4 linked regions of the Homo sapiens genome follow. The protein of the gene in region 3 interacts with the protein of the main gene of each other region in a biochemical or structural test. Each region holds a gene or a part of one and is shown on either strand. Other genes may lie near its edges. The genes, in order: XPO1, HNF4A, TGS1 and NCOA6.

Region 1 (7,028 bases), on a different chromosome or scaffold from region 3:
AAATTTGCTAGGCATGGTGGTGTGTGCCTGCAACCAATTACTTGGGAGGCTGACACAAGAGAATTGCTTTAGTCTAGGAGTTCAAGATTGTAGTGAGCTATGACCACGCCACTGCACTCCAACCTGAGCCACAGAGCAAGACCCTGTCTCCAAAAGAAAAAATTTTTTTTCACTGTAATTCTACAAAAATGGCTTTATAATTATTTAAGTGTGTTTTAATGTGATTTTTTTAACCAACTTCTGTTACAGGAGTTTCCTGTGTCTCATTCCTAGACTCTGGTTTAGTAGATTGGCAGGTGGCCAATGAATTTGCCTAACGAAATCACAACCAATGTTGATACTGAGAGAAGGACCACACTCTTGAGAATCAAGGTTCTAGACTCAACTCCTTTCATGTTCTAGTTTTCCACACTCATGGAGAAGTTGTTGGGTTCTCTTTTTATAGCTAATTTATTTACACAGATTAGAAGTATTTGGATTCAGACCTCAAAACCACAGTATGCAACAGGAAGAACACTCAACCAACCGCTCTGTTACCTTGAATAACATGGGCAAATATAGCTGTCTCCTGGGAGGAACATCAAAATGTTGACTTCCAGAAAGCAACGGAGAGGCAGATGTAGAGAATGGACTCTCTCTATAGAGTTCAGCAGCCAAATGATTCCAGTATTCAAGACAAATTTTAAAGATTTCAGTTTCTTCTACTTCAGATACCAACAACATATAATGAAGGGCCTACACAGAAGACCAAAACTGTTAAAATAATTCTTAAACATTACCAACTTCAAATTGCTTTTCACTTGTTACACCTTAAGGGAAAATAAAAATTCATGTTTTATTCATCACAACTCAGATTTCAATACTTATCAAATAGACAGCAAACTCTGGAGTAACTCTGCTTCTTCTGACATGCCCTAAAGCACTTCAAAAATCTCTCACATAGTAGTTGATCAATATGTATTTTTATCATGTCTCCTAATGGAACGACATTTATTTAAAAGGCCTTGGGTGCCAATAAGTGGTATCACAACCCAAATGTACCATCACAGAGGAGAGAACAAACAAAATACTGAATATTCATACAATGAGAATATTCTTCAGACATGATAAAAAGTGAGGTATTGATACAGGTTACAACATGGAAGAACATTGAAAACACAACACCAAATAAAAGAAACCAGACACAAAAGGTCACATGCATGATTCCCTTTATATGGTATAATCAGAATAGATATATCTACAGAGACAGAAACCAAAATAATGGTTGCCAGAAGTTGGGGAGAGAACAAAGGAGAAAGTGACTGTTTTAGGGGTAAAGGGTCACCTTCGGGTGATGAAAATGTTTTGGATCTAGGTATTAATGGTTGTATAACATTGTATATATACTAATATGCCACTGAATTGTGTGTGTGTGTGTATATATATATATACTTATGTTTATATATATATATACTTAAGTTTATATATATATATAAAGAGAGAGAGAGAGACATTTTCTTCCTTCAGACAGAGTCTTGCTCTGTCACTCAGGCTGGAGTGCAGTACTGTGATCTTGGCTCACTGCAACCTCAGCCTACTGGGCTAAAGCAATTCCTGTGCTTCAGCCTCCTGAGGAGCTGGGATTACAGTCATGTGACACCACGCACAGCTAATTTTTTTGTATTTTTAATAGAGACAGAGATTCACGATGTAGGCCAGGCTGGTCTCGAACTCCTGCCTCAAGTGATCCACCCACCTCCGCCTCCCAAAGTGCTGGGATTACACGATGAATTGTATATCTTTAAATGAACAAATGCATGTTATTTGAATTAAAACTGAAATTTTAAAATAAGGTCTTTGAAATTTTAACCTTAGAAATGATATAATAATTAGTAATTTAATTTTGATTATAAATTTTTAGTCCTAGCTTTATGGAGAACATAAAATCAGAAAACTGGGCTTATAACTGTAATTCAGAATTGAGAATATATATAATGTACTGATCAAATATTAAGTAATAAGAAATCTCAAAAGGTACATACATTTTAGAAAAAGGCACTTTTAAGAGTTATTAGTAGGCAGAGCAGAATTTTAGGAGCAAAAGCTCCACATATCTTACCTCCATAAGAGTTTCCCTGAGATTTAATCTTTTTTCTATAAGTTGATCATGTTCCTTAAGAAAGGTGCAGAGAAACAAACTGAGATTTTGAATGAAGTTCTGTTCATCATCTTTTCCATTTGAGTACGCAAGTCGAATATTGGTATTTAAAGGAAGCATCTGCAAATTTTAAAAGGGACGATCAGTTCGCATTTTATAAAACAACTAAAGACACTTAATATTTTATTATTATTTTTTTGAGACAAGGTATCACTCTGTCCAGGCTGGAGTGCAGTGGTATGACCAAAGCTCACTGCAGCCTCCACCTCCTAGGCCCAATCAGTCCTCCTCAGCCCCTCCCGAGTAGCTGGAACCACAGGTATGTGCCATCGCACTAAGCTTATTTTTAACATTTTTGTAGAGACGGTATCTTGTTATGTTGTCCAGGCTGGTCTCAAACTCCTGGCTCAAGCAATCCTCCCACCTTAGCCTCCCAAAGTGCTGGGATTAAAGGTCTGAGCTATTGCACTCAGCCAACACTATTATTTTTAAGCCCTAATATCCCAACACCCTTTTGCTAATATTAAACCACATACAGAACTCCTAGGTCCAGTATACCTATTCTTATATCTCTAGGACTTAGATTTTGACTCTTCTCAAATAAATTAAAGGCCGCTATCACAGCCTTTAAATTTTTCTAGTATTTCTCACTGACATTGAAAAATGTAAAAATAATCAATTCATTCATTCAGATCACAAACATACATAGTAATCTATCTTTCCTTGTTTTTTAAAAGAGACAGGGATTTACCCTGTCATCCAGGCTGGAGTGCAATAGTGTGACCATAGCTCATTTTAACTTTGTATTAATAGGCTCAAGCGATCCTATTGCCTCAGCCTCCAGAGTAGCTGGAACTACAGGTGTGCAACACCACAGCTAGCTATTTTTTAAATCTTTCGTAGGTATGGTCTGGTTATGTTGTCCTGGCTGGTCTCGAACTCCTGGCATCAACTGGTCCTCCCATTCTGGCCTCCCAAAGTTCTGGGATTACAGTATTAACCACCATGCCTGGCCATGAACACAGTATTATGAATAACCTTCTAGATCATTTAATAGATAACCAATCAAACTAGGGCTGAAAAGAATTCCTTCAGACACAATGTTAGGAACAAGTCCCAGGTTTCCCACTGTCTGGTCAGGTATCTCCCAAAAGACCAAGCTCCTAAAGTGTGCAGAAATAAATTACCACAACACACCCCAAACCTGAATTTTAAGAAATTTTTGGAAACATCATAAAAATTTGTAGCTTACTACAAATTTTATGTAATAAACAAAAGATTATGGCTTATCTTTGATACGTCGTTCTAAAATAACTCATTTGGAATTTGGTATTTTCTAAGGCACTAAAATTATTCAGCCAATTTTCAAGATAGTATTATATTACCTGCTTTAGTTGCATCATTGTCAGAGTAAATAGTGTTACAAATTGTTCTTCATATTGGCTTACACTCACACCAGCAATCTCAGTGAGGCACTTCAGAGAGACATTTCGAAACATTGGAACATTCAGGAACTATTTAAAAGGGGGGAGGGAACCATAAAATTAATTGGCCTGATACACACTTTACTTAAAATTCACAATTAAAAGGAAAAAGGCTTTAACAATTAAATATAGGGGTAGATGTCAAAAACAGGCCAAGTGAATGAACATATTTTATCATGCAGATATACTGAGAGGGAATTTTATTGCCTACCTAGTATACAGTAAATGCTTTAGGAGCAAACTTTTTTTGTTTTTTTGAGACAGAGTCTCGCTCGCCCAGGCTGAAATGCAGGGGCTTGATCTCGGCTCACTGCAACCTCACCTCTTGGATTCAAGCGATTCTCCTGCCTCAGCCTCTCAAATAGCTGGGACTACACATGCATGCCACCACGCCCGGCTAATTTTTGTATTTTTAGTAGAGACAGGGTTTTGCCACGTTGGGCCAGGCTGGTCTCGATCTCCTGACCTCGTGATCCGCTCACCTCGACCTCCCAAAGTGCTGGGATTACAGGCGTGAGCCACAGCGCCCGGCCTAAACTGCTTTCTTTTGATGTGTCCTAAAATAACAAGGCTCCTTAACAACTTTCCTAGAATCTGTGATATGACTTTTAGGAATGTTATACTTTCTGTGTAATTACACAGGACCTAAAACTTGTGATTGCTTAGAATTTTGGGAAATGGTCAATGTATCTAAGAGTAATAAGAATATGGGAAAATTGGCTTATATATTCTATTGTTGAGAAGATAAACAGTTATCGTCTGGGGTTGGAAATCAGGGGGCATTAAAACCTTAAAATTAAACATACCTAATAATCTGGTGATTAAACATTAAAATATTTAAATAAATTAATGTTTGGACAATTGCATAATATCTTATGTCTGAGAATGTTCTCTGTAGGACTGTTGACAATAGAAAGGTTTTTACATAATTAAGCAATAAACTGATCATTCAAATACTATAAATCCATATTATCTTACCAAACTAAACTACGAAGTTGAAGAGGTCAAGTTATAATGTTCCAATTAGATACTTAATTTATTCATTATATCAGTCAAGAAAACATCTGAAAATATAATACAACCAACTGGTAACAGTGATTATCTCTGGATAAACCACTGTAGAACTTTACTTATTTTGAGACAGGGTCTCGCTCTGTTGCCCAGGCTGGAGTGCAGTGGCACGATCTTGGCTCACTGCACCTTCTGCCTCCTGAGTTTGAGATTCTCCTGCCACAGCCTCCCGAGTAGCTGGGACTACAGGCATACACCACCACGCCTGGCTGTTTTGTATTTTTAGTAGAGACCGGTTTCACCAACTTGCCCAGGCTAAACCATTATAGAACTTAAGCCATAACATGGTATCAATTTTAAATTATCAGTTAAAAGATGAACTTTTCATTTTTCAGAAATAGCACTTGACTTACCTCACTGTAACTTACTCAAACTAAAAGCAATATAATCAAATCCATTGTTCAAAATGAATTCATAAAATTACATGGTCTAAGTGGCAGAATCAGATTTGAAACTCACTTTAAATAATTTACTAGGTGTGAATATGGGAAATTTCTCCTGAGCAGCGTCCTCGTGTTAGAAACAAGGTTGAATAAGGTTTAGAATGCAGAGATGAGAGCTTTACATGTGAAAAGAATATATGTGGCTATCCGGTGACAAATAACTGAAATGTATTCACTGTACCTTATAAATCAATGTGCTGATTAATTTGGTCTCAAAAATATATCCCAGGGGAATCCAGTTCAGAAATCTGAGCAATGTTTCCAAGGTTGCATGTACAAGTGGAGCATTTTGAGAATTTTCCTATAACAAAACACACTTGTAAATAATTGCTTTCCTATTATTGTTTTTAAAAATGAAATTAAAAACACTTACCATTACAAACTGACACAGTTGAAATATCTGTGAGAATTCATTGCACATGCTAAAAAAAAAAACACACAAAAATATCAGATTTAGAAGACACAGAAATAAGTATCAGTTATCTATAATACTAATAAAAATGATTAAAGCCCAGTACAGTGGCTCATGCCTGTAATCGCAGAACTTTGGGAGGCCATGGCAGAAGGATTGTTTGAGACCAGCCTGGGCAACCCAAGGGGAAAAAGATTTCCTAATGACTACAACAAATGTTTAAAACTTAATGGAAGTATAACTATAGTTTATACCAGTTGCTTACTATTAGAGGCAAATCTAGTTTTCTGTTTTGTTTTAAAAAGAACACTATTGTTAACAATTGGGGAACTGAAAAGAAGCAGAGACAATAACTGATTTGAGGCCAGGCTCTGTGGCATGCACCTGCAGTCACAGCTATTTGGGAAACTGAGGCAAGAAAATCACCTCAATCCAGGAGGTGGGGGTTGTGGTGAGCCAAGATTGCGCTGCTGCACTCCACCCCAGGCAATAGAGCAAGACTTGTCTCAAAATAAAATAAAATAACTAATACGTATGTTTGGACACAAATCATTTGCTTAGAACCTATTAAACTAGTTACCATACAAAACAATTCCTGAAGTGTGTCTTGAACAATTCATTTTTCAACCTTCAGAGGTAAATTATTAGGCCCCGTCTAGGACTATTTCTTAATCTGCAGTTGAAAACCACTACAAGCAATTTAACATATTACTGATCATAGTTCCTTAAAATATCTACAATTTACATCCAAACTGCTTGAAATTGTTTGAGAAATCACTTTAAAATTCTAAAACATAATTATTACTTGCCTGTCTTTTAAATGCTTAGATTTGACTTGGGTTATCTGTCCACTAGAGAAATCAAATACTTCTTCACTCAAGAGTTTAAGAATCACCATATTATTTTGACAGAGACTTTCGCTGGTCCTACTTGCTCCAACAATATCACTGATAAAAGTTGGCCAATGTTTGGGCCATTCTTGTTTCAGTATCTAAAACAAGACATGAAATGTTAATCGCACTTCATTTCTCAAAGGCAAATAAAACAAACTTCAAAGAAATTATGTAATGGATAAAGGCAGGAGTAAGGATAAATCACTTTTCATTTTCTCCTCCTTTATTAAAGGAAGAAATGTGCCACCCTCTTCACCCTACTGGGTAGAAAACAAAACACAAAGTCTTTTATCTTAATCACCGCAGGACCCTTTTCAATTATCCTAATGAAAGGTCCAATCCGTCTAATGGGTCTGTCTGTGTATTAGTATCTGCCTGATAGATATGTAGAAATTATTCTAGGAGGCCTTGCGCGGTTGCTCATGCCTGTAATCCCAGCACTTTGTGGGGAGCCAGGGTGGGCAGATCACTTGAGGCCAGGAGTCTGAGAACAGCCTGGCCAGGCTGGGCGTGGTAGCTCGTGCCTGTAATCCCAGCACTTTGGGAGGCCGAGGTAGGAGGATCACGAGGTCAGGAGTTCAAGACCAG
Region 2 (7,028 bases), on a different chromosome or scaffold from region 3:
ACCTCATCCAGTGGATTGCCTCATCCCAACAATGGCTTCATTCAGTAAAGGCTGTCAGTCACCTTACTGAATAAACAGCCTCAACAAATGGACAATCTTGCCCTTTATTCCCTACCCTGGAACCCAGAAAACTGTTGCATCCTGGTTCTACCTTCTAGACTCCACTTTCTCCTGCCTCCTGTCTTAAGCCCCATCCTCACCCTTTGCAAGGTAAAATCCCAGAGTTTGCCCACCTGCCTGTCCCCTGGGTCGGGGCCACTCACACATCTGTCCGTTGCTGAGGTGAGTGGGCATTGTGTTGGCAACGATGACGTTGGTTCCCATATGTTCCTGCATCAGGTGAGGGTGCAGGGGGTGGTGGGCATGGGGTGCATCGCTGGGGGACCCTGCAGGTAGAGAAGGTCGATCAGGATGGAGAGTCTGGGATGCAGACCTCAGGCCTTGGGACGCCATCTTCCTCAGGCGTGGCCAATCAACCAGCCCATCCAATATTGGCAGTGCCTGTTGGGTACCTATTCCTGGGTTAGTAAACTAGGGTGTACCATTCCCATCTATAGACTTCATGAGGGTGTTAAGAGGACCCCAAAAAACCAAGAGAACAAAAGTGAGTTGAAAGGAACAAGGTGCATATAAGGAAGCTCTGAGATCACGTAAATGTTCTAATGAGTAGTGTATTGGTCACATAGTAACATAATGGATGTAATCAATGGCTCTCAAAGCTCCTTGGAGTGCAAGTCCTTCAACCATTTGGTCCCGCCTCACCTTTCAGCCTCATCCCCCACATCTCTGCTGCAGCCAACTGACCTACTTATAGCATCTATGTGTCCCCTGTGTTTTTCTATCTCTATGCTTCTGCTCACGTTGTTGCTTCTGTCAGAGATGTTTTTCCACCCCAAACCTGTTCCATGTCCATAAGCCCAAATCCCAGCTCATATATTTCCTCTCTTTAGAAGCCTCTCCTGATTCTCCTTCCTTGGATTTCTCATAGTAATTTGTCTGTAACACAACTTTTAGGAACAACCACTTCTTCTGTCTATGAGCATTACAATTTCAGAGGTATTTTTCTTCTTTCTTTGAGGGCCTAGCAGATTGTCTGGAACACAGTAACCGCTTCAAACATATGTCAGGGAGTAAAAATACCACATGGGATATGGTTTAATAATAGCCTATGGTGAGTAATATGACGATGATGGAATTTCAACGCTTGCAAGCGATCTCTACAGTACATCTATTTCAGTGATAAATAACAATTGTTGATAATTAACAATTATCACGTGCCAGGTACTGTTGTATAGCACTTCCCATGTTTCACATAATTTAATCCTCACAGCAATCCTATAGGATGGATACTATTATTAGCCCATTCTACAGATGAGACAACTGAGCCCAGAGAGCTCTTAATTATTTGGCAACAGACCACAGGCTCCTGATCCTGATCTCAATGACACCTGATTCATAATAACCCCATGTTCACAGGGTCAAAGTGAGAATGAAATGAGCTATCACATAACAGCGATTCCCAACTGGGGATGATTTTGGCCCATCAGGAGACATTTGACAATATCCAAAGACATTTTTGGTTGTCACCACTGGAGAAGTGCTACTGGCACCTTATGGGTACAGGACAGAGATGCAGCTGAACAATGTACAGGACAGCCCCACACAACAAAGAATTGTCCAGTTCCAAGTATCAATAGTACCAATGTTGAGAAACCTCACCCTCGCCTTGTCATCTTCAGTCACTGAAACACCTCCAAAATCTCGAATTCAACATCCCCACTTTGACTTCACCTCATGTCCTTCCAGCTCCCGTAATCTAATACCATCGCTGCAAAAATTCTTCAGCCCTACTGAGACTGTCAATTCACTGACACTCTCTTTTCACTATCACCCCATCCTTTTGTTGTTGTTGTTGAGACAGAGCCTTGTTCTGTCGCCCACGCTGGAGTGCAATGTCATGATCTCAGCTCACTTCAACCTCCATCTCCCGGGTTCAAGTGATTGTCCTGCCTCAGCCTCCCGAGTAGCTGGGATTACAGGTGCATGCCACCATGTCTGGCTAATTTTTTTTTGTATTTTTAGTAGAGATGGTGTTTTGCTGTGTTGCCAGGTTGGTCTTGAACTCCTAGCCTCAAGTGATCCACCCGCCTCGGCCTCCCAAAGTGCTAGGATTACAGGTGTGAGCCACCGTGCCCGGCCTCTATCTTTATTTCTTTTTGAGTGCAGCCCAGACTCCATGACCTATCATTCTAATCACTCCCTTGCAGTCATCCTAACTCCTTCATACTCCCCTTCATAGTCAAACCATTTCAAAGGGTTATCTACTCTATCTCCACCTTCCCACTCACTCTCTTTGGAGCACTCTCCAATCTGGTTTCCACTCTCCCAGCTCTCTGATGCTGCTTTCAACACAATTGCCAAGAGCCTCCAGCTGTCAATCCAATGGACCCTTTCCTCTCTCTTCCCCTCCTCTCTTCACCTCTCCTTTCTTCCCCGCTTCTTTCTGTTTCTCTGTAGAGTTTAACACCATTAAACACTCTGTCCTTCAAACACGCTCTTCTCTTGGATTCTGGAATTGCCCTGGTTTTCTCCTACCCCTCTGGCCAGTCTTCTTCCCTTCCCTCCATGGCTCCATCTTCCCCCTGATTCCACAGAGCTGCCTTTAATCTTGTGCTTGAGCAACAGACTCATACATTCAACAGCCTCCTTGATAACTTGGATTTGTAATAGTCATCTCATGCTTAATGAAAGTCCACAATGAGGCTGGGCATGGTGGCTCACACCTGTAATCCCAGCACTTTGAGAGGCCAAGTCGGAAGGATTGCTTAAGGCTAGGAGTTCAAGACCAGCCTGGGCAACATAGTGAGACCTTGTCTCTATAAAAAATAAGAATGAAGAATTAGCTGGGTGTGGTGGCACGCACCTGTAGTCCCAGCTACTTGAAAGGCTGGGGTAGGAGGATCTCTTGAGCCTGGAAGGTTGAGGCTACAGTGAACTATGATTGCGCCACTGCACTCCAGCCTGGGTGGCAGAGAGAGATCTCGTCTCAAAAAAAAAAAAAAAAGGAAAAAAGAAAAGAGGGTCCACAATGGATCTCTGAGGTCACCCCTCACTACCACCCCCAGACCCAGTGTCTTGTTGTTTATTCTGTCCTCCTCATTTCAGTAAATTACTCCATCGTCATTTCTGCTACTCAAAGCAAAAATGTAGACTTTGTCCTTGACTCTTCCTCTTTCTCTCACTCCCTATGTCTGATCAATCAGCAAATCCTGTGGGTGTGGGCTCTTCCTCCAAATAGATGATCAGGTTTATCTTCACTGCTCCATTGCCAGGGTCCAAGCCTCCATCATCCATCACATGATTGGAGACAGTGACATTCTCAGGAATCTGCAATTCACTCTCTACCCAACAGAGTGGTTTGTTTGAAGCATTAGTCTGGGATGGGTGTGGCGGCTCACACCTGTCATTCCAGCACTTTGGGAGACTGAGGTGGGTGATCACTTGAGGTCAGGAGTTTGAGACCATCTTGGCCAATAGGGTGAAACCCTGTCTTTACTAAAAATATAAAAAAATGAGCAGGGCGTGGTGGCGGGCGCCTGTAATCCCAACTACTCAGGAGGCTGTGGCAGGAGAATTGCTTGAACTCGGGAGGTGGAGGTTGCAGTCAGCCAAGATTGTGCCACTGCACTCCAGCCTGGATGATTGAGGGAGACTTTGTCTCAAAGAATAAAAATACTTAGTCTGGTTTTCACTCTCCTTACAATAGTTGCAATGAGAATAAAATCCAAATTTCTGAAAAGGCTGACAAAGCCATATGTTTATGATTTGGTTTCTGCCCAATCTCCATCTTCACCTCCTACACGTCCTCCATCTCACAACCTTGCCCTTCTTTCTCAAACACAACACTCTCTCCTATCCGCAGCCCTTGAAGTAGTTTCTTCTTCTTGGAATATTCCTCTCTTGTCTTTTAAGCCTTCCATTTCCTTTCAGCCGTTAGGGTCTTAGCACAAGAGTCACCACTTCAGAGAGGTCTCCTGTGGCCTCCCCTATCTAAAGAGGATTCCTTTTCAGTTAAACTCTATCATATTACCTGTTTATTTCAAAATCATAAAATGTGAGGCTTTATATACACATGCACGCACATACGGGCATATACACAGATATCCACGCATCCATACATACTCACACACACACAGCCTCCCCGAGGGCAAAGATCTTGTTCTTTGCTGAATTGCCAGCACTTAGAACAGTGACTGGCACGTGCTAGGTTCTCGGTGCCTGAACAAATAGACCATTGCCTTGTTCCCATTTTTCTGGTGAGGAAACTGAGGCACAGACAGGTTAAGCAACTTGCCCAAAGCGGCACAGTGGGGAAGCCAAGGAGCTGAGGGGTGAGCTCACTGTGTGAGGCCTGTCTCCTGGGGAGTCCCCACTCCAACCCCGCCCCTCCTGGGCTTGGCACGGACCTCCCAGCAGCATCTCCTGCAACAGGTTGTCAATCTTGGCCATGCCGAAGAGCTTGATGAACTGGATCTGCTCGATCATCTGCCAGGTGATGCTCTGCAAGGTGGGCAGCAGCAGCAGCAGCTCTCCAAAGCGGCCACGCGAGTCATACTGGCGGTCGTTGATGTAGTCCTCCAAGCTCACCTGCACCTGGGAACGCAGCCGCTTGATCTTCCCTGGATCGCTCAGCCCCTTGGCATCTACAATGGAAGAGGGTGGGCAAGGGAGGGCAGCAGGGTCCAGCTGGAGCATCTGGGGAGTCAAGACCCAGATGTCCCCTGACTTGTATCACACAAGGAGTCTTCAGCAGTGTGGGCACAAGGATTCAGGGACCTCAACAACCAGGGTACGCCAGCATGAATTATGATTTCCTAGACACAGGCAGAAAAAGATTTCTGCCACATTTCCTAAAGCACTAAACCAGAAGAGAGGGGAATAGGAGATGGAGGGCGGGACTTGAGGAATGCATCCAATAAGCACCTAGCAACCGCCTCATCTTACACACGGGGAAACCCAGACACAGTGCAAAGATAGGACTTGTCCTGGGTCGCACAGCCAGTTGTTGGCAGAGCCACAATGGGAACTTGGGGTTTTGGGCCACAGTTGAGGTCCCCTCATCCAGACCTCAGCAGTTGCTGCTTCTACTGTGTTAGAATAGGCTCCCCTTCCCTGGTTCCTGCTTCCTATCACCTTAGGGACTCAGGTTAGGTTTCACCTCCTCCAGGAAGTCTGCCTTCTACCCTCCTATATCTGTATCCTGTGTCCCTCCTGTTTCCAAATCTCTGCGGCCCCTCCATCACTGCTGACCACACAGGATGTAATTGTTGTGCCATCCAACTGTGAGTTTGGCAGGGGCACGCGTATGTCTTATTTGCCATTTTTATTTTATTTTATTTTATTTTGAGACTGAGTCTCCCTCTGACCCCCAGCCTGGAGTGCAGTGGCGTGATCTCGGCTCACCGCAACCTCTGCCTCCTGGGTTCAAGCGATTCTCCTGCCTCAGCCTCCCGAGTAGCTGGGATTACAGGCACACACCACCACACCCAGCTAATTTTTGTATTTTAGTAGAGACGGGGTTTCACCATGCTGGTCAGGCTCATCTCAAACTTCTGACCTCAAGTAATCTGCCTGCCTCAGCCTCCCAAAATGTTGGGATTACAGGCGTGAGCCACTGCACCCGGCCTTTGCCTTTTCAAACTCACCACCTAGCACCATGCATAGTCAATATTTATTGAATAGGGCCAGGCATGGTGGCTCATGCCTGTAAGCCCAGCACTGTCAGAGGCCGAGGCGGGGGGATCACTTGAGGTCAGGAGTTTGAGACCAGCCTGGTCAATATGGTGAAACCCCATCTCTACTGATAATACAAAAATTCACCTGGCGTGGTGACACATGCCTGTAATCCCAGCGACTCAGGAGGTGAGGTGGGAGAATCGCTTGAAACTGGGAGGTGGAGGTCGCAGTGAGCCAAGACGGTGCCACTGCACTCCAGCCTGGGTGACAGACTATATATATATATATTTTAAAAAATATATATTTATATATAAATATATATTTATTGATAACTATATGTATATTTTTTGTTAGATGGCTGGATGAATGAATGAAAAAAAAATCAGTGAATAAATTCTAGATCCTTAGCCTAGAAAGGAACTTAAGCGGTCATACAATATTTAATCTCAACCTTCATGGAGGTAATGCATTTATTTCCTCTTTCATGGACAAAGGAAGTGGCAGAAAGAACATTCACCCACATTTCTAGTGGGCTGTCTCCACTGAATCATGCTTATTCATTAGTTCATTCAGGCCACACATGTTTATTGAGCACCTCCTGCATGCCAGGCCTTGAACTAGGTCCCCCGCCCCTTCAAATTGCTGGAGGCTGCTGCCTCTGACTCAGCATCAGTGATCCTTCCCATTTTGCAGAACAATTCTGCCAGTCCAGCCTCGTGTTGAGCACTACAGAGGATACAGGCTGGGCCAGGCTGTGGAGGGAACTAGAACTAGAAATCTCACCCTCTGGTAAGTGTGGGATAGCAGGTGGTAGGTAAGAATGTGGGCTTGAGAGAGAGAAATTGGGATTGACAGGTGGTCTGAAGTTCAAATCCAAGCTCTGCCATTTTCCGGTTGTGTGACCTTGAGCAAGTTAATCATGCCTCAGTTTCCTTATCTGTAAAATGGAGATAATAATAATTCCTACTTCACAGGTACCATGTTGGTAAGTAAGACAATCCACATAAAGTGTTTAAAAACAGCTCTTTAGGGAGCATTCAATACATGGGGCTCATCTTCCACTTCATCACTCTCTCTATATATAATATATATCACTATATATATATAAAATATATATCACTATATATAATATATATTATACGTAATATATCACTATATACTATATATATCACTATATATTATATATATATAATATATATTATATATATATACACATATATGTATTTTTTTGAGATGAAGTTTTGCTCTTGTTGCCCAGGCTGGAGTGCAATGGCATGATCTTGGCTCACTGC
Region 3 (7,028 bases):
CCAAACCATACCAGTAGGATCCTAATAGTCCAAATTCTGATACAGCTTTATATTATAAGCTTTAATTCTGAGTTCTTCCAGAAGTGATCAGTCACAGTTTACACCTTGTAACAAGTTCACCCTGATAGCATGAAACACAGGCCAATTTATTGATTCACATTATTACCTGAAATATTCATATATTGGACTTTGCTATACCTGCCATCCAAGTACCTGGGAAACAAAAGTAGTTAGAAAATTGCTTGGTGTGATGAATTACCTTTCTATATTCTAAGGGGTAAAAAACACTTTCTAATGAGCAGAACCTTCATGTCAATCACATCTCCAGCAGCTCTTCAGGACAGTAGACCATAATCTTAGACTCCATGATGTCTCTGTCTCTGTTGTTCGTTTTTTAAGGCTAGTCAGATGACTCTTTTTCCCCTCAATACAGTGTCCTCCCTAACTTCAGCATACTTGTAAAATATGCTACATATATATAGCTGGTTTTATTTTGTATTACATTTCAGGTTGGTTGGCTGCTGGTGATGTTTTAATAAATATGTTCGTGGTGCTAGTTATATCTGAAACAGACTGCCTAGTATTAGTCCAGTCAGTGCCATAGGACTTTCCGTAATGTGTTGGATATAATAGCCCCTATGCATTCATCTATAGATGAGTGCAGAAACAGCTACTAAGCATTGCTGAGGAAAAAAGATATGTAACTGTTGTGTCTAACTTAGATACCTAATTTATTTATAGGCACATTTCTTTAGAGGAAGATTCTGGGTTGTTGCCCATCATGTCTACCACTTCATTCTAATTTACTCACTCTCAGGAAGGTCATGAAGACAAGATAGGAAGAATATTCTTGTTACAGAAGATGCAAAGAAGTATATGATCTGATGCTGAGCCTTGTTTACATTCCAAAGAACAAACATTTGCTGGGACATATCTTACTGGCTCTACTGTTGCATTAAAAGGCAACTTTGATTTTTTTCCAAGGTAGACTGCTTCTATTCTTACAGAAGAATTGGCCCTAAATCTTTTTAGGGTTCGTCTTTGATGCTAAGTAACATTTACATAGATTGTAGCTTGACCATTGCAGAAAGGTCTATATAATTTGAAAAACTAAAATTAATGATTCAGTAGTAAGTAGGTACATTTGTAATGTAGCTGTAGCACAGTTAAATTGTTAAGAACCCTTATGGAAAAGCCACTGGGACAGTTTGGCTTTATCCTCTTAGTATTTATTGATAGCAGGAAGTATTTAATCTGATATTTTTTTCCTTTTAAAGAAAACTTTTAATAAGGTCATGGCATGCCCAGATAGCATTCTGATTAGGTCAGAATTACTTACTATTAAGCTTGTGTGATGCAGTCTGCTTTTCAGAGCCAATAATTTTGACACAGCTTTTCAGTCAAGTCACAAATTGTAATAGGTAGGAAGATTCTGTGTAGTTTGGAATTAATTCCTGCTCATGATGTCATCTTAAAATTTAAGGTAGAAAAATTCCTCACATGGGTTAATAAACCAATGGATGAAGAAGCATCACAGGAATCATCTTCTCATGACAATGTGCACGACGCTTCCACAAGTAGTGATTCAGAGGAACAAGACATGTCTGTTAAAAAAGGTGATGACCTACTGGAGACTAATAATCCAGAACCTGAAAAGTGTCAGAGCGTATCTTCAGCTGGTGAACTTGAAACAGAAAACTATGAAAGAGACAGCTTGCTAGCAACTGTTCCAGATGAGCAGGATTGTGTTACTCAAGAAGTGCCAGACTCCCGCCAGGCAGAAACTGAAGGTAACACTAAATATGCTTCAACTTGCTAATGGATTTAGATAAAATTTTTTTTGTTAATATGTTTTTTCTTAGTTTTCACTTGTGAATCTTCTGTACCTAAGGAGTCACTGCTACTTATTTTTAAGTGAGAGAAGGCATATTAAGTGTACATGTTCTAACTGGCTATGACTTAGCACCCACAGCACTCCTCACTCTTGGCTGAGTGAACATGATCAAGTAGAAAAGGAAAGACTGTTGGGAGCATTGTGTCTGCAGACCACTGTCTGCAGTTCAACTTGGCCTCTGCTGGTACTCAGTTCCATGGGCTAAAGGTGACCATCCTTTGCCTTCTTCGTATGTGGTGTAGCTTTGGTTTACTTCTTCCTTTTTTTGTGTGAGACAGGGTCTCATTCTGTTGCCCAGGCTGGAGTGCAGTGGCACAATCACAGCTCACTACATCCTTGACCCCCAGGGTTCAAGCAGTCCTCCCACCTCAGCTTGAGTAGCTGGGACTACATGTGCATACCACCATGCCTGCTTAATTATTTAATTTTTTTTGTAGAGACACAGGGTCTCACTATATTGCTGAGGCTGGTTGCCAAAGGCTCAAGCAGTCCTCCCACCTTTGCCTCCCAAAGTGCTGGGATTACAGACATGAGCCACCATGCTCAGGCTGGTTTCCTTTTGGTGTGTTTTTGTGTGTTTGTGTGTGTGTGGTTGATGATGGTCATGTGTTTTTGATGGCACGTTAATATAAAAAGTATTCAGAGCAGTTGGCTCTAATGAATAAACTGAGTAACATTTTCAATTTATGCACTTTTGTATTCGAATTTTTATAGCAAAAGTTCTTATATAGTTTAATAATGGTATTATGAAACCATTATATTTATTGTGATCCTTCATCATATTTCTTTATTACTATGGAAAATAACTTATTTGAGTCTTGATTTTTTTTTTCTTAGTGCAAGTGTGGGTGTATGTGTATGTGTGATCTTTTTATCACATATTTCTTTACATTCTAAACAGCATACCTACAGTAGTTTACATTTATTTTATTATCAATGTTATAATAACCGATGTTCATATGACATTTGTAGGTTTGTGAAATGCTTTTATGTGTCTTATTCTCATTTAATCTGTAAGGTAGCCAGGGAAGTAGGTGGAATTATTTTCCATTCTGTAAATACAGAAAGTAAAGCTGAGAGAAATTTAAAAATTAGCCCAAGTAAGTGGCATAGCTAGGACTCATTACCAGCTTCTCCAATTGCTAAGTCCCATTTTCCTGCACTATCCCACTTCCATAAACACCAATTCTCATGATGCTGGTTATTTTTACCTGGGGTAGTACCACCTTCACAAGGGCATTTGGAAGATGCTGGTTGTTAGAATGACATTTGGAATTCTGGCATTTAGTACTCAGTTACTTAATGTTAGGTCATGTACAGGATGGTCTTGCACAACAAAGAATTATTCCACCCACAATGTCATTATACCCCCTGTTGACAAATAATCACCTTACTTTGCTATTGGTAACACTTGTTTGGGGATGGGGAGATCTGACCTTACTGAATCATGATGACACTTTTTACTATTTACAATGATCAGATGAACATATTAGGACATAGCCCTATCCTTGAGGACCATTTGAGTGTGTAATGGAGTCTTATTCTTTGTTAGCCATCACCTCTTGTTTTTATACTTAACTGTGAAAAAAGTCTCATCTTTCTATGTTGTTGCTTCTAATTTGCTGAAGACTGAAACCAAATAACCAAACTGATAAAAATTATTTAAGGAAAAAATCACTCTCTGAATGAATGAGATCCTTTTCCGTGGAATGGAGCTAGTGACCCTTGTTTCAGTTTCTCAGATGCCATGTGACTTCAATGTGGCTGACAGCTAGAGCCTAATCTAGTCCTTGATAGAAAGGAAATGTTTAGATTTCTATAATTCACCACATAAAGCAGTGTCTTGGCTAACAGAAGTAATAACTTTTATGTCTATAGCAGTATTTCTACATATGTCCTGTCACTGCTGTGAATTAAGTTAGTAAAACACCACTCACTAACTCATTCATTCATTCTTTATTTTTTAGACAGAGTCTTGCTCTGTTGCCCAGGCTGGAGTGCAATGGCGCATTCTCAGCTCACTGCAACCTCCGCCTCCCAGGTTCAAGCGATTCTTCTGCCTGAGCCTCCCGAGTAGCTGGGATTAGAGGCACCTGCCACCGTGCCCAGCTAATTTTTGTATTTTTTTTTAGTAGAGATGGGGTTTCACCATGTTGGTCAGGCTGATCTTGAACTCCTGACCTCAGTGATCCACCTGCCTCAGGCTCCCAAAGTGCTGGGATTATAGGCATGAACCACTGCGCCCAGCCCCATCGTTCTTTTTTTTTTTTTTTTTTTTTTTTGAGACAGAGTCTTGCTCTGTTGCCCAGGCTGGAGTGCAGTGGTGCAATCTCAGCTCACTGCAAGCTCCGCCTCCCGGGTTCACGCCATTCTTCTGTCTCAGCCTCCCAAGTAGCTGGGATTACAGGCACCTACCACCACGCCTAGCTGATTTTTGCATTTTTAGTAGAGATGGGATTTCACCATGTTGGTCAGGCTTGTCTTGAACTTCTGACCTGCCTCAGCCTCCCAAAGTGCTGGGATTACAGGTGTGAGCCACCTCGCTCAGCCCACTCATTCCTTTTATAGGAATTAATAATTGGAGTTTAGGCCAGGCACAGTGGCTCATGCCTGTAATCCCAGCACTTTGGGAGGCCAAGGCGGGTGGATCACAAGCTCGGGAGATCAAGACCATCCTGACTAACACGGTGAAACCCCGTCTCTACTAAAATACAAAAAAATTAGCCGGGCGTGGTGACGGGCGCCTGTAGTCCCAGCTACTCGGGAGGCTGAGGCAGGAGAATGGTGTGAACCCGGGAGGCGGAGCTTGCAGTGAGCCAAGATCGTGCCACTGCACTCCAGCATGGGTGACAGAGCCAGACTTCGTCTCTAAATAAATAAATAAATGAATGAATGAATGGAGCTTAAAGACCCTCGGTTACTTTCCCAAGCTTACAAAGCCAATAAGTAGCAAAATGCTGGTGGTGATTGAAGCCAGTGGCGTTTCCATCAGGCTCTCCTGTTTCTCTGGGCGTGTCATTATATACATGTTCTGCTTGTAATTATTTGATGTGGCTTCATTTTTAGATAAACTCACCTGTGATACTAATTTTTTTCTTAGTGAGCATCTATATTCTTTGTATTTTATTTTAGCTGAAGTGAAAAAGAAGAAGAACAAGAAGAAGAACAAAAAGGTGAATGGTCTGCCTCCTGAAATAGCTGCTGTTCCTGAGCTGGCAAAATACTGGGCCCAGAGGTACAGGCTCTTCTCCCGTTTTGATGATGGGATTAAGTTGGACAGAGGTAAAGTATATATGTATTTTTTAGCTTTATTTTGAAACCACTTCAAACTTAAAAAGAAAGTTATAAGAATAATACAGGGAATGTTCATATCCCCTTTACCCAGATTCAGCTATTTTCAACATTTTGCCCCGTTTACGTTCTCATTCTCTCTCCATATGTATGTGTGTGTATCTTTTTCTGATCAGTACTTAACACACATCATGCTCATACTTCTTAATACTTTAGTGTATATTTGCTAAGGACAAGTATATTTTTGTTTAAAATAGTGAATTATCAACTTAACATTGTTCCAATATTTTAATCTACAGTTTATACTCTAATTTCATTAATTGTCCTAATCTTGTCCTTTATCACGTTTTTTTTTTCCTTCCAGTATAGGATCATGTATCATTGCGTTTATTTTTCAAGTTCTTTAGTTGCCTTTAATGTGGAATGTTTCCTTAGCCTTTTTTGTCTTTCATGACTGACATTTTTCAAAGGATCAATGGCCATTTATTTTATAGGATGCCCTTCAATTTGGGGGGGTGTGTGTGTGTGTGTGTGTATTTTTAAAATTTCAGACTTGGGTTTAATCTGTATTTGTAGCACGTTAGGATAGATAGCAAAAGCAATTGATAAATTATTAAACAGAAAACCTGATGAAGAAATATCTAGTGCAGAAGGATACAATTTAATGAATTAACTTCGCAAATTTTGAATTCTTTCTCCAGCTTTCCTGCTGTGATCTGCAACAGCTTACTTAACTCAGTCTTGCAGACTGATGCTCGTTTTCATATTGGGGTTACCTAAATATTGGTTTTTATTAACTATCAAAATCAGAAGTTCTTGATCTATGATGGAATTTCAGGGGTTCTCTGACCCTTTTAAAACAATTTGCAAAATGCTGTGTATTGGAAAAAGTACGTAGGAATTTGTAAGGAGAAATAAGGCTGGAAAACACTTGCAATTCTATAAAAGTGTATATTCTTATTTTTCCAGTATTGAAGAGCCATTTAAAGTTTTGGTAAGGGGAGACAACAGGAAAATTAACGCACATTATTTTTATTTATTTATTTTTCTTTTCTTTTCTTTTTATTTTTTCTTTTCTTTTTTTTTTTATTTTTTTTAGACAGGGTCTCACTCTGTCACCCACGCTGGAGTACAGTGGCACAATCTTGGCTCAGCAACCTCCACCTCCCAGGCTAAAGCAATCCTTATGCCTCCGCCTCCTAAGTAGCTGGGATTACAAGCAAGCACTACCATGCTTGGCTAATGTTTTGTAGAGACAGGGTTTTGCCATGTTGCCCAGGCTGCTCTCAAACTCCTGTGCTCAAGTGATCCACCACGCCCAGCCCAGCACATCATTTTGTTCAGATAATTGTCTTTCTGAAAAATGTAAATTTTTTCTACTAGGAAAGAAGGAGGTCAGTATTCTCTTTACTCTAGAGTGGACACAGGACCTCATTTCTGACAATGATGAGGGCTCTGCTATTCCTCCTGTACTTCTGCAACCCTATGGCCTTTTGCCATCCAGTTCCTTGCTTTTTCCGACCCTTTAAAAGCATGCAGTTTTGGCCAGGCATGGTGGCTCATGCCTGTAATCCCAGCACTTTGGGAGGCTGAGGCAGGCAAATCACTTGAGGCCAGGAGTTCAAGACCAGCCTGGCTAACATGGCAAAACTCTGTCTCTCCTAAAAATACAAAAATTGGCTGGGCATGGTAGCGTGTGCCTGTAGTCCCAACTACTCAGGAGGCTGAAGCATGAGAATTGCTTGAACCCAGGAGGCGGAAGTTGCAATGAGCCAAGATCATGCCGTTGCACTCCAGCCTGGGCAACAGAGCAAGACACTGTCTCCAAAAAAAAATGGAGTTT
Region 4 (7,028 bases), on a different chromosome or scaffold from region 3:
AGAGGCAGAGAGAAGGGGAATTAACCTTTCCAGAGCTCTGCGTGAGGCAGTGTGTTGGCCACTTGACAAATCTTCTCATTGAGTCCTCTCTCAGAATCCTAAATTCTGGGAGGTAGAATGTACGATCTCCATTTTACAAGTGAAATACATGGCTTAGGAGAGGTTAAGGAACGTATCAACTGTAACTGGTAACCAGTGGGCTAGAATTTGAACTCTGATCTTACCCTGAAGTTTGTGTTCTTTCTGCCTCTCCTCCTGGGTGCTTACCACTCAGTGGTAGGCACTCGAAGCATTTTAGCTGCATAAATAAGATAGGCACTTAATTAGCTGGCCTAGGATATCGTAAAGGTCTTTCCCAGCTCTAGCAGTGTGTGACTGACTCCACTCTGGGGAAATAGAGCTTCTTCACTTAAGCCTCACAGGAGGAGGAACATGTCAGGGAAGGGAAGAAGGGAAGGAGGGGCGGTTGTAAGGACACCTATGCTTCCATCATTAGCCCATCTTAACAGTACATAGGAAATAGCCTGAACTAGATACACAAATGGAATGTACCAATCAACAAAGAGATTACATCAAAAAGAAACTGGGAATAACAATTTTTACCATTTATTGAATAATAATTATATGCTAGGTTCTGTGCTAAGAATGTTATATGTACTACCTTATTGAATTCTTACAACTATTATTGTTCCATATTACAAAGGAGGAAACCAAAGTCTGGAGTGGTCAAGTAACTTGCCCAAGCCCATATAGCTGGTAAATGCTGGTGTTATAATACCAACCCAAGCCTACTGGCTCTTGACCACTTTGTTTCTACTGTGTCCATTATCATGAAACCCAGTTTTCTTCCAGCTCTCCTCTAGAGTAGCCCAGACAAAAAAAGAATGGTTCCTGAGATAGAGTACAGTGAGAATGGGGCTATGAGGACCCATTGTTCTGAAATAGTCATGAGCAAATCTTCACCCTGGTAAAGAGAATCTGCAGAAGCTGCTGTTCACACTTAAGGCACAGTGTTAAATGGGAGGTTCACAGTATAGACTCTGAACAAACACTGAACGTCTTTGAGCTTCAATCTTCTCACCCATACAATGGGGTTAAGAATATCTGACATAGTTGGTATAAAGATGATGCAAGACAACATATGTAAAAATGCTTCCTTATAAATTGAAAAACTTATATAAATGAAAGGTATCATTATTTCAGGAACTCTTTGTTTTGAGAGCCTTAGCTCTCTGTTTTGTTTTTTTCAGACAGAGTCTCGCTCTGTTGCCCAGGCTGGAGTGCAGTGGCATGATCTCAGCTCACTGCAACCTCTGCTCCCAGGTTCAAGCTATTCTCATGCCTCAGCCTCCTGAGTAGCTGGGATTACAGGTGTGTGCCATCATGCCTGGCTAATTTTTGAATTTTTAGTACAGATGCAGTTTCACCATGTTGGCCAGGCTGGTCTCGAATTCCTGACCTCAACTGATCCACTCACCTCGGCCTCCCAAAGTGCTGGGATTACAGGCGTGAGCCACCGCACCTGGCCCTTAGCTCTCTTTAATGAATGCAAACTTAACATGGGATTTAAAAGCATATTTTCCAACGTACTTTCAATAAATAAAACTACTGCTATTGCCATTTAGCCCATTCTCTTTCCTCCAAGTAAAAAAGGAGTCATGCTTTCTCTTGTGGGATTAGGTCATCAAAAAACTGACACAAAGAGATGATGAAGCCCCAAGTACATACCTATGCTGGGTAGAAGTTCTGGATGGGATCCCACCTTCTCCTCCACTAGGCCACCCGCAAGTGACTCAGATGCTATGCCACCATGATTGCTTTTTGTGGTCGGTACGGCGGAGATGAGCTCGGAGGGTACCAGAGTGGTTACTATCGAGCGTACACTGGTGGGGAGAGCACCGCCAGGTAAGCTGGGTCCTGCTGAGGCAGTGCCCGGGCCCACAGGGCTAGAGGTCATTTTTAGCAGAGTGGGTGCTGGGGGCGTTGGGGTTTTACTGTCCAGCTCTGTGGATAACTGCTCTGTTCCCATGAGCCCCGGAGCTGTGGTGTCTAGCCCTTGGCCTTCAGTCTCTCCATCTGCACCATATTGTTCTTCCCCTTTCTCAAGAGAGCCTGTAACTTTCTTACATGCCTTGGTCAACAAAATTTGGCCAATTTTGTCCACTTTTCCTTTGCCCTTACTAGACGAGACTGGGCTTCGCCGGTTGCCAGAGGACCCTGGACTATTGGTCAAAAGGGGAGAAACCATTGTGGTTGACTGTGAAGAGGGAAGAGTGTTCTGATCTGCTGAGGTGTTCACCTGAGGGCTAGCCTCATCTGGATTCAATTCTTTCACTTGCTGCACAGGGGGATGAGAAGGGACAACTGGAGAAGACGTACAAGGAGGGGAAGGAAGCTGAACAGGGGTGGCTCGTGAGCTAAGGACCAAAGGTCGACCTGTCTGGATGTTTGGAGCAGGACTACTGGAGAGGGCATTAGGCGGTACAGGAGCAGAAGAAAATTTTATGTTCTGAGGTATGTGTAAAGGGCCAACAACTGCAACAGAGGGAGGCATCAGGCCAGAGTTGGTTGTCAGTGGGGCTGCAGGAATTGTGCTTGGCTGTGATCCTTTCATAACCTGAATTATTGAGGATGAATTGATAAAGACAGGTGTAATGAACTGAGGCCGGGCATTAGACTGAGCAGCTGACTGTCCCTCAGAAACCATAACCTTGCTACCCGCATTGGGCATTGTGACAACTGTTGACATCAATGCAGACTGCAAGTGAGTTGGCAAAGCTGCTGATGTGTTAGCTGAAGTTGTGATGGGATTGGAAGTGACAAATACAGTTATTTGATTTGGGGGCAAGGGAGTGGAAATGGAGGAAGAGCTAACAGGTCTTGACATTACTGGAGGGATGCTTGGTGCAACGTTAGAACTGACCTCACTCAATTCGGGATGCACAAGGGATGAACACAGCTCATTACTGTGAGGTAAGTTTAGGGAATTAGAAGGTTCTTTAGAAGAAGACAGATCCTGCAGTGTGGGAATGACAGATGCTTTTTTGAGGTCCTCCCCAGAAACTACTGGAGGTGTTACTTCCAGATCTGTAAGCCCAGGGGGTTTAATTGTCACATTGGGAGCTCCAGAGTTGTCAAGAAGTTGACTTAACGATGTTGGTGCTTCCCTCATAGCAGGAGACACCAAATTTTTGTTCTCTTCGACACTGGGAAGTTTGTTAGGATCCGAAGGCTGCCCATCCTTTTTGGACTGATCTTCAGGGACAACCATTTTAACTTCTTGGGCAGGGACTGCTTTTAGTTCAATGTTTACCTGTTCCTTCCTACTCTGGGAATTCTGGCAATCACTGTCCTGAGGCACATTCAAGCTCTCCTTGTTATCCTCAACAACACCCCCAACTGCAGCCACAGACACAGTAGAATTCTGAGGATTCAGCCCACTGTTGTTAGGAAAGCTCCCAGGTACAGGGGGATTGGCCAGAGGAGTGGGACTGACCAATACATTTCTCGGCAACTCCACATTCTGCAATAGGGCTGCATTTGTCTGAGAGGCCAGAGTAAGTTTAGGGGCTTTTGAATTTTGCCTCCCAGGGCTTGGAGTGGTTTTCCTACTGGACCCAGGACTAGACCTGCGACTGTTGCTTGGACTTGCCCGTTTTGTTGCTCCAGAATTAGACTGCTTTCCAGAATTCACTACCACAGAATCTAATTTGTGAGTTTGTGGGGTAGCAAAATTGGAAGGATTCATGGTAAGATTTGAAGGTGCTTGCCCGATGGCCTTCAAAGTTGTTGGATTTAGGCCTTGTTGATCAAAGCCCCTGTTTAAATTTGGCCTAGGAGGTAAAGGAATATTAATCTGTGGAGGGAAGAGTCCTGCTATGGAGGCATTGAGTCTTTCTGGTGACAGACTGATTTCTGAAGGTTCTGTGCTGGGAGGGCGGTTGTTGGGTGTCTGAGGATAATAGGGTCTGGGGCTGGCTCTGTTTGGTGTTTTGGGCCTAGATGTCTGGGTTGGCGCAGCCACATTTGGGAAGTGGTGGCCGTGAGAGCTGGGCAGGGAATTTACAGGGGGTTGCTGGGGAGTTGCACCTTGAGTTGCTGAAAGGGGCGATGGTCCAGGTTTTGGCCCTGTCATCATTAACTGATTCTGGGGAAGTACTACATGTGAAGGCATGTTGTTTGGGCCTCCTGGGACAGATGGTGCTTCACTGCCACTTGCTTCAGGGAGTGAGGCCATCTCCGCCAGTGGCGAGCTGGAAGGATTCTGCGGGCTCTCCTGATAGACCATTTTCCTTGAATTGCTTCCCAAGGGAGTATTCACAGGCATTGGCATTCTTTGTTTATCAGGTGATGGTGGCACGGAGGCAGGTCCTTGCAGACTGACCATGACAGGCACACTGCCACTCTGTTGCATGGGCATTCTCTGGGAGTCGGGGTTCAGGGGGCCCCTTGGAGGATGGACATTTTGAGAGACTGGAAGCCTAACTGATTTGGGATCCTGCTGCATCATGAGCATCATCATCATTTGTTGCTGCTGCTGCTGCTGCTGCTGAGACTGTGGCTGACTGGGAGGTGGTGGCTGCTGCTGCTGAGGCAGTTGTGGCTGTGGCTGCTGCTGTGGTGGCTGTGGTGGGGGTGCCACATGCTGCATGAGTTGAGGAGGCATCTGCTGAAGTGGCCTCTGTTCAACTGGTTGAGAAGGATAACCTAAAACAAGCCCCCCAAATTAGGGAAGTTAGATTTTTCAGCAAGAAAATGTTGCTACCTTTAGAGTATAGCCAAGCAATACTCATCTAGGTGGCACAGACTATGCACAAACAGCTCAGGCATGCCCACTCCTGGGGCAGGGGGCAGCCCCTCATTACTTGACATAAGCAAAAGGGGCACAGTGCTTAAGGAAGCAAAAAGCAAAGCATCAAAAAACCTGGAGCTCCTCGGTGTGTAGGATCTGAATGAGCCATGACTGTACTAAGAGCCTGATTTTCTGTGCTATGCACTGAAAATGGCTGTGTCTATACCAGCCAAACATTCAGATGAAATGAGAAAAACTCCATCAACATCAAGTGCCTGGCCACCCAAGATTCAGGTCTCATGTAGTCATAATCAATATTTCAATGTACTTGTGAATGAAGTAAAGCATTTAGGATTCACTTCTTCTGTTAGCACAGGAATAATTTTTTTAAGATGTGGTTTTGTTGAAAATAACAGCACTGAAGACAGCCTTTTTATTCTTTCAACAGAAGTAAAATATAAAATTCTAGGATTCAGTTCCTTAAGAAAGAGGAATTTAAAATTATTCCAATTCATTGGCTCCATACACTACGCCGCATCCTTCAGGCTTAATCCTTTGGGGGAAACCGACTGAATTAAAATTGCCCTTCAGGTGTAAATCAGTTTAATAAACAGTAGGAGCTAATGGAAGCTGATATACACATTGAAAATAAAATTAGGGCATTGAAGTTTTTATGGATATTAATTTGCACTTACTTTCTTACATGCAAATCTCTATTTGGAGAAATATTTTCCATGAATCCACAGCTGGAGAATAAGTAAGGCAGAAGCATAGCCCTCAGGAATAAAAAATAATTTTGGGAAAAGAACTCTGAAGGACAATGTCTTCTAGATATGCAGAGGGCAACATCTCAAATTATTCTCTTTTTTTGTGAAGATTTTACTTGGCATTTTAGAACCAAAACCTTACAATCAGAAAAGATAAAAAGATACGCAAACCAAGAATAACGGTGGTTCTGTGGGAAAAAGTGGGCATACAGCTGGGCATATATGGGATACAATTCCAGTTCCACAAACTAGATTTATTCCATTGTTGCATGAAGAGTACATTAGGGAGGTTTTAAGAAGGTGTAGGAATAAGAACAACTGGCTCTGGCAGTCAAAAGAAATGCTGACTCAACATTTTCATAGAGCAGCTACCAAATTTTGTGGGTCAGACTCAGCACTCAATTAATGTCTTCTGGCCAAAGATTTCCATGGTATCAATGAATACAATGTGTAGAATCCAGTTTTGAAGATTTTTAAAAAAATCCTTTTTTATTTTAGGCCCGAGTAACTTCTTCACCTTTATAAAGCCAATAACATGGCATTTCTATGGTTCAACTGTCCTTTCGACTACATAGTCAAATACAGTGGGTTCCTATTTTTCACATTCAGTCTGGGGTTCCCACATTAAGAAATTTGTAATTGCTACAAAAGCCTGTTGATGTCAGGGTTATGACATGGATGCCTTTTATCTTTAAAATCAGCCCACCAGACAGTAAATACCAAAGAGGACAGCATAGACAATATAGCAGCCTCTCAAAAGTAACAGTTAAGGGCATGGCTGCTACAGAGTCCAGAAGCTGGAGGCAGCAGTCCAAAAGGCACTAATGATAAGACAGATTGGGGCTGACGTGACAGAATGGTGAAGAGGGAAAGCCAGGACACACATAGTGCCCATAACACAATCACAAACTGAATTTATTACTCAGGGAATGCAAACTCCTATGCCTTTAGGGGCCAGGCAGGTAGTAGAGAATAGAAGTGGACTGGTATAAGACAGCAGGAGTCCTGTCAACAGTGCCAAACTGCAGAGCAGATGCCCTATTTAAAGGCATTTAAACTCGGACTTTTGTTTAAGACACTGCATAGCAACTCAAAACCATTATAGGCCAAATTCAGCCTGCAGGCCCCCAGTTTGCAGAAAGAAGGCAATAAATGTATACAAAGACCCCTGGGATTCTTATAAGAAGAGTTCAGATGTGTCTGAGGCAAGCAGGCATGTTCCTGCTCTCAATGCCTTCTGGACATACTCCCCAAAGACTGATGACCTCCCAGTCTCAGCTATGCTGCTGCATCTCACTGACGGGAAGTGTGATATGCCCAAATAATTTGTAATAAATAACACAAAGTATTGATATCATGATGGATTTAGCTTTTTGTTTGGATTCAATTTTAAAATACATAAATTAGGGGTAGATTAAAGGTTACTCCTAAAATAATGTCGCTCTCATTTTCATGCCAAAAAGAAGTTG

Evidence for each region.
Region 1: the proteins of TGS1 (region 3) and XPO1 form a complex in vitro, tested with the Homo sapiens proteins (one study listed by IntAct).
Region 2: the proteins of TGS1 (region 3) and HNF4A form a complex in vitro, tested with the Homo sapiens proteins (one study listed by BioGRID).
Region 4: the proteins of TGS1 (region 3) and NCOA6 form a complex in vitro, tested with the Homo sapiens proteins (2 studies listed by BioGRID).

The regions. Positions count from the first base shown.
Region 1 is NC_000002.12:61,493,357-61,500,384, forward strand, and holds part of XPO1 (exportin-1), read right to left. Parts: intron 6,539-7,028; coding exon 6,357-6,538; intron 5,558-6,356; coding exon 5,509-5,557; intron 5,437-5,508; coding exon 5,317-5,436; intron 3,652-5,316; coding exon 3,523-3,651; intron 2,258-3,522; coding exon 2,099-2,257; intron 736-2,098; coding exon 538-735; intron 1-537. UniProt on the Homo sapiens protein: Mediates the nuclear export of cellular proteins (cargos) bearing a leucine-rich nuclear export signal (NES) and of RNAs.
Region 2 is NC_000020.11:44,421,693-44,428,720, reverse strand, and holds part of HNF4A (hepatocyte nuclear factor 4-alpha), read right to left. Parts: intron 4,704-7,028; coding exon 4,467-4,703; coding exon of another isoform or gene 4,342-4,466; exon of another isoform or gene 4,078-4,341; intron 387-4,077; coding exon 234-386; intron 1-233. UniProt on the Homo sapiens protein: Transcriptional regulator which controls the expression of hepatic genes during the transition of endodermal cells to hepatic progenitor cells, facilitating the recruitment of RNA pol II to the promoters of target genes. Activates the transcription of CYP2C38.
Region 3 is NC_000008.11:55,797,431-55,804,458, forward strand, and holds part of TGS1 (trimethylguanosine synthase), read left to right. Parts: intron 1-1,483; coding exon 1,484-1,790; intron 1,791-5,026; coding exon 5,027-5,176; intron 5,177-7,028. UniProt on the Homo sapiens protein: Catalyzes the 2 serial methylation steps for the conversion of the 7-monomethylguanosine (m(7)G) caps of snRNAs and snoRNAs to a 2,2,7-trimethylguanosine (m(2,2,7)G) cap structure.
Region 4 is NC_000020.11:34,738,635-34,745,662, forward strand, and holds part of NCOA6 (nuclear receptor coactivator 6), read right to left. Parts: intron 4,708-7,028; coding exon 1,729-4,707; intron 299-1,728; coding exon of another isoform or gene 225-298; intron 1-224. UniProt on the Homo sapiens protein: Nuclear receptor coactivator that directly binds nuclear receptors and stimulates the transcriptional activities in a hormone-dependent fashion. Coactivates expression in an agonist- and AF2-dependent manner.